Regions from separate parts of the Homo sapiens genome. Here region 2 is linked to region 1. A link means that fine-mapping ties the variant in region 1 to the expression of a gene that starts in the linked region. Tissue or cell type: cerebellum. Region 1 holds a variant in brackets; the other region holds the start of a gene. All regions are shown on one strand. Distances are from middle to middle.

Region 1 (2,681 bases):
GCTCTGAGCAGGCTGACTGCTGATGTCCTCAGGGTGAGGCAATTGCCGCAGAGGCCACCTGCCAGCGTGCACACCCCTCCAGGTTCTGTGTCTCGTGATCCCTCCGACCTGGACAGTTTGTCCTTCGTTGTAGGAGTGTGAGTGCAGCTCTTGGGCCCAGATGGGTAGGCCGGTGTAGGAGGAGAGGCTGGGTTCCAGTTATTTCAGCATGCGCAGGGCCACAGGCCTGTCGCGTCCATGGCCCTCGGTCAAAGTCAGCCCTGGTGTCTTCTCCAGCCTCAGCTCTAGGGGCATCATCAAGGGAGAGAGTGAGATGGGCAGGGACGATGTGGTGCTTCCGCTTCAGGCCTCTGCTCAGAGCTTGATTCCGTTCAGTCCACTTTCCAGATAACGCCGAATGCGAAACACAGTCCAGGAAAGTTAGTTCCATCCACTTGGCTGCCAAATAATCTTGGGCTGTGCTGGGAACCACGGAAGATGTAGGAAAGCTCGTGAGATGTTCCCAAGCAGGGCCTCTCCCCGAACCCCCAGGTTAAAAACAAAAGTAAAAGACAACAAAAAAGGAATCAGAATTCTCCAACACTGGCCCTGTCCCCAGTGAGGGGTCCGAGCCCCCATACCAGCGTCTGAATAGACAAGAGCTCTGGTGCCACCACCCCAAGGTGGGCAGGGTACCCCCCTCTCCACCATATGCCTGTGGCAGCTGAGCCAGGCCTGCCCGGCCCCAGCGGGAGGTCTCTTCCGTTGTGGTAAGCCTGGCCTCCACCTGCCATCTTGGTCTCCTGCCTCTGCCTCCTGCCCCAGGCCATGCCAACCAGCCGGGTGGCATTTCTGAGGCTCCATGGGCACCCGGTTTCCCCACAGAATGGGTCAGGCCAAGGAGGTCCAAGAAGAGGAGGATGGCCTCGTGGGAGCCCTGCCCCCAAGACCCCAAATGACATACATTCCAGTCTGTCCCTGGACGTGCGTGCGTGGAGGTCATGCAGCACGATGGGGGAGGGGCGGGAGTGGGGCTGCAGTCCCCAGCCCCCTGCCTGCGGGGGCGGCTGTTGCATGAGGGGTGGGCCTCTGGAGGCGCGGGATGAGTGTGCTGCCGGGTGGCCCTGGGTGCATGCAGGGGCTCAGGATGCAGCCTCGTCTTCCTGGACGCCGGGGAGCTCTGGGCTCTTGCCCCCTTCACCAAACCCTTCTTTCCTGTTCAGGGGACACCAGGGA[C/G]AGAGGGACCTCAGGGTCAGAATATGCACTCAGGGAGACACTCTCCCTCACACACACAGGAATCTGAATCCCACATCTCTCAAAGCCCCCTTCACCCACTGCCCCAAGCTTGGCCTCCCTCTGGCCTCCCTACATCACGGCAGTTGCTCCTTGCCGGTCTCTCAGCCCCCAGTCTCAGCCCGCAACGCCTCCGTGGCCCCCCATTGACCAGAGATGAAGTCTAAACCTCCCAGCACGGCCTCTGGAGCTGCTCACAGTCTGACCCAGCTGACTTCCCTACATCCTCCAACTATCAGCCTAATCAAGGGCCTTCTCTCTGTGTGTGTGGTTTTGTTGTTGTTTTGAGACAGCGTCTCGCTCTGTCGTGCAGGCTGCAGTGCAGTGGTGCAATCTCAGCTCATTGCAACCTCTGCCTTCCAGGCTCAAGCGATCCTCCCACCTCAGCCTCCTGAGTAGCTGAGACTACAGGCACATGCCACCACGCCCAGCTAATTTTTGTATTTTTTTATCTCTATAAAAACAGGGTTTCACCATGTTGCCCAGGCTGGTCTCAAACTCCTGGGCTCAAGCGATCCATCCACCTCAGCCTCCTAAAGTGTTGGGATTGCAGGCGTGAGCCACCGTGCCCGGCCTGAGGGCCTTCTGTGTTGACCTCAGTCATCCCCCAGCAGATCTGGGTAGAGAGGCTTTCATTTTGCATTTTTCTTTGCCTTGTTCACAGGGCAGAGTCCATCTATCAGTCTTGGGATTCTGTCACATATTCAACAGATTTCTATATCTAGTTTTCCTCCCAAAATGTCTCTTTTTAAAATAACCAGTAAATGGGTTTTGATATCTTTAAAAAGGACCAACTCCACTTAACTCTACTACTGAGTTTCTACAATTATCCCAAAGTATAAAAAACTCTATGGCCGGGCACAGTGGCTCACGCCTGTAATCCCAGCACTTTGGGAGGCTGAGGTGGGCAGATTACCTGAGGTCAGGAGTTTGAGACCAGCCTGGCCAAAATGGTGAAATCCCGTCTCTAATAAAAATACAAAAATTAGCCGGTGTGGTGGTGGCATGCACCTGTAATCCCAGCTACTTGGGAGGCTGAGGCAAGAGAACTGCTTGAATGTGAGAGGCGGAGACTGCAGTGAGTTGAGTTTGCGCCACTGCACTCCAGCCTGGGCAACAAGAGTGAAACTCCATCTCAAAACAAACAAACAAAAAACCAAAGCAGTCTATCAAGGATAAATATTGGGACTTGATGATGAAGTAAAATCTTCTTTCAAAGTTAAACGTGGAGGCTGGGTGTGGTGGCTCATGCCTGTAATCACCTGGCACTTTCGGAGGCCAAGGTGGGCAAATGGCTTGAGGCCAGGAGTTTAAGTCCAGCCTGGGCAACATGGCAAGACTCCATCTCTATTTTTTTTTTAAAAAGCTCTACCCCAAATTAAACTTGGGTCACAGAATTCTAGAATTTT
Region 2 (2,681 bases), 31 kb after region 1:
TAGGAGAGTCATTTCCTGGCTGGGACTCCGGGCTTGGTTTGGGGGTGGGGAGAGCTTGGTGGACAGAGCCCAGGAGGCCCCCAAAGCCAGGGGGAGGTTGTGAGCAGGGGAGTGCCTCGGTTAGGTGAGGTTTAAAACGACTCCCATGGCTGCTGTGAGGACTGACGGTGGGAGACCGAGGAAGAGGCGAAGGGTCCCCAGAGTGTGTGCGCCTGGGACGCAGTGGGGGGTCAATTTGTATGTACTGGAGGAAAGAGGGCAGGGCTTGGGGAGGCCAGCGCCACTTCCCTGGGATCCTCCAGCGCGCACAGGCTGTGTGCCCCTCCCACACTCCTGTGCCCGCCCTGCGGACACCACCAAGGCCCGGTCCTGTGGCCTGTGACACAGCCTTCTCTGCACAGCCCTGCAACGCCAAGACTTGAGCACACCCCCTCCCCTGACAGGCACACGCCCGTGTCCGCGTGACCCGCCCTCACACACCACTCCATCCTGTCCTGCACCCCCCACGCAGACACAGGCACACTCCCGCGTCCACGTGACACACGCACACCCGCCTCCAAACAGCACACGCAGGTCCCTGCGCACGTGGACACCCCCCCAGCCACCAGCCCTGCGCCTCCCGGGCCCCGAAGCCGCAGCGCCCGCCTCTGCCGCCCCCTCTCGCCCCAGCCAAGGCAGGACCCTGCGCAGCCTGAGCCGCGCGCCGCCGCCGCCCCATTCATCTCCCACCCCGCCCCCGGCTCCTGCAGGAAGACGCTCCGGCGGGCCGTGGGAGGAGCGCTCCGCGGAGAACCGCACGTGGGTGCCCCGGGCCGGGCCCACTCCGCACAGACGTGGCCTCCACCAGGAGCCGGGCGCGGGGGACAGTGCACCGGGGATGGATGCGGTCCGCAGACAGAAGCGGGGAAGAACGCAGACGGCGGGGCACCCGCGGCGATGCGGTCCCGGCGGCCGGCGCAGACCCGAGCAGACTCCGCGAGGCACCCCGCAGACCCGGCCCCGCAGACAGAAGGGGAAGGATCCCCGCCCTGACCAGATCCCAGCTCCCTCGTAGACGCGGCCTGGCAGACCCCCCCCGCCTCTCCCTTGCAGGCTCGGGGCAGGTGTTAAGGCGTTCGTCCTCCTGCTCCTCGCCCGCGTCCCCGCCCCGCCGATCCCTACCTGGGCGCCGGGCGACAGTGTCCGCGGCCCGGCGGGCGGCCCCACTCGCTCCTGCTGCGCGCCCCGCCCCGCCCCGCCCCGCCCCACCGCCTCGCTGGGGCCCAGATCGCCGAGCTCAGCCCGCGGGCGCCGCGGCTCCGGGCAGCGCTCGCTGCCCCGCCCACCGCCGCGCCCGGCCGGCGCTCATTGGTCGGAGCGAACGGCCCCGCCAGCGCCGCCCAATCGGAGCCCGGGACTCCCGCCCCCTCCTGGACTAAGGGACCGCGGTGGGCGGCGCGGTAGGGGCCCTCCCTCCCCTGCGGCGGGGCCGACCTCGCCACGCCCCCGGCGTCCTGGGGTCCCCGAAGTCCCTCCCGGCCGCGGCGTGGGCCCTTCTCCTGGGCCTGCAGGGGACCGTGCTTCCCCGCCAAACCCTTTGCGCCCCCATCCCGGCCTGCAGGAGCCAGAGCGCCCCTCCCTCCCGGGCGAGGCGCGGTGCGTGCGAGGGAGGGGCGAGGCCCGGGGAGGAAGGCCTTGAATGGCAGGCCCAGGAGTGTAGCTTCTGCGGGGCGGGGGCAGAGAGGCCGAGAGGTGGCTTAGCACAGAGTGAAGTGCTTGCTCGGTGAGCCGGCGACAGGAATGGCCTAGCGAGGGCCGAGGGAGTAGAGGGAACTCAGCAGGACAGTGAGGTGACCTTCGCTGTGGCTGTTCCTGGGGACTCTGCCGCCACCTCTTCCCCTAACGCCTCCGCGTGTGAATCCTCTGGCACCACCACTTGCCCCATATCCTTCCCCCAAATCTAACCTCCTGCGTCCCTGTCTCGAAGTGGAGCCAGGAGCCTGGGAGTCACCTGCTGCCTCCCTGTTTCCTGCTCCAACCAGTCCATCTCCAGGCCCTGCCATACTGCCTCTTAACTATCCCTGGAATCGGCCCACTCCTCTCCACCCCACTTCCCCTCCCTTAGCTCAGGCTACCACCATCTTGTCCCTGATTGCTGCAGCAGCCTCCTCCCTGGCCTCCAGCCCCATCCAGTCTCACCTCCTACTAGCCTTTCTCTCCCTGGCACCCAGAGCAAGTTTTCAGGAACACAAGTCCACCGAGAGGCATTTTCTATGGCTCACCGTGAGAATAGGTCTAATCAAGCCCTGTATAGCCTTACTCCCAGCCACCTGCCTGTTTAACGCCTACTCGTCTTTCAGGGTTCAATTCAATCCTACTTCTGCCTGGAAACCTTCTCCATGACCTCCCCACTTCCAGCATGGGTTAGTGGCCCCACCCAGGTACTTCCTTGTACCTGGCATCTGTTTACCTGCTGGTTCCTCATTGGGACTGGGAGCTCCTGGATGGCAAGCACTGTGCCTGATTCGTCCAGCACACAGCCTGTCGCATGGCACAGGTGCTCAGTGGATGTTGTTGAATGAATAATTCCAGCAACTTGAGTGTGGCTTTTGACCTCATGGTTCAGGATACCAGCTAGAGCTCCAGCAATCACATAACGCATTCCAGGCAGTGGAGTGGAGAAAAGGATGAAGAAGAGGGCA

Evidence for each region. PIP is the estimated chance that this variant, and not a neighbour inherited with it, causes the effect.
Region 2: it holds the start of CAMKK1, and the variant in region 1 is fine-mapped to the expression of CAMKK1 in cerebellum (GTEx, PIP 0.99). The same link has a PIP of 0.9 or more in cerebellar hemisphere.

Annotation. Positions count from the first base shown.
Region 1 is chr17:3,861,090-3,863,770 of GRCh38, forward strand. It overlaps CAMKK1 (calcium/calmodulin dependent protein kinase kinase 1), which reads right to left. Exons shown (of 16, transcript NM_032294.3): 16 at 1-1,194. The coding sequence ends at 1,122. Among named protein-coding and RNA genes, the nearest start is that of NCBP3, 16 kb to the left of the region's middle. The variant C/G (reference allele first, on the strand shown) is at 1,216.
Region 2 is chr17:3,891,778-3,894,458 of GRCh38, forward strand. CAMKK1 (calcium/calmodulin dependent protein kinase kinase 1) reads right to left here and starts at 1,276. Exons shown (of 16, transcript NM_032294.3): 1 at 1,162-1,276. RefSeq lists silencers at 583-832, 973-1,152, 1,183-1,722.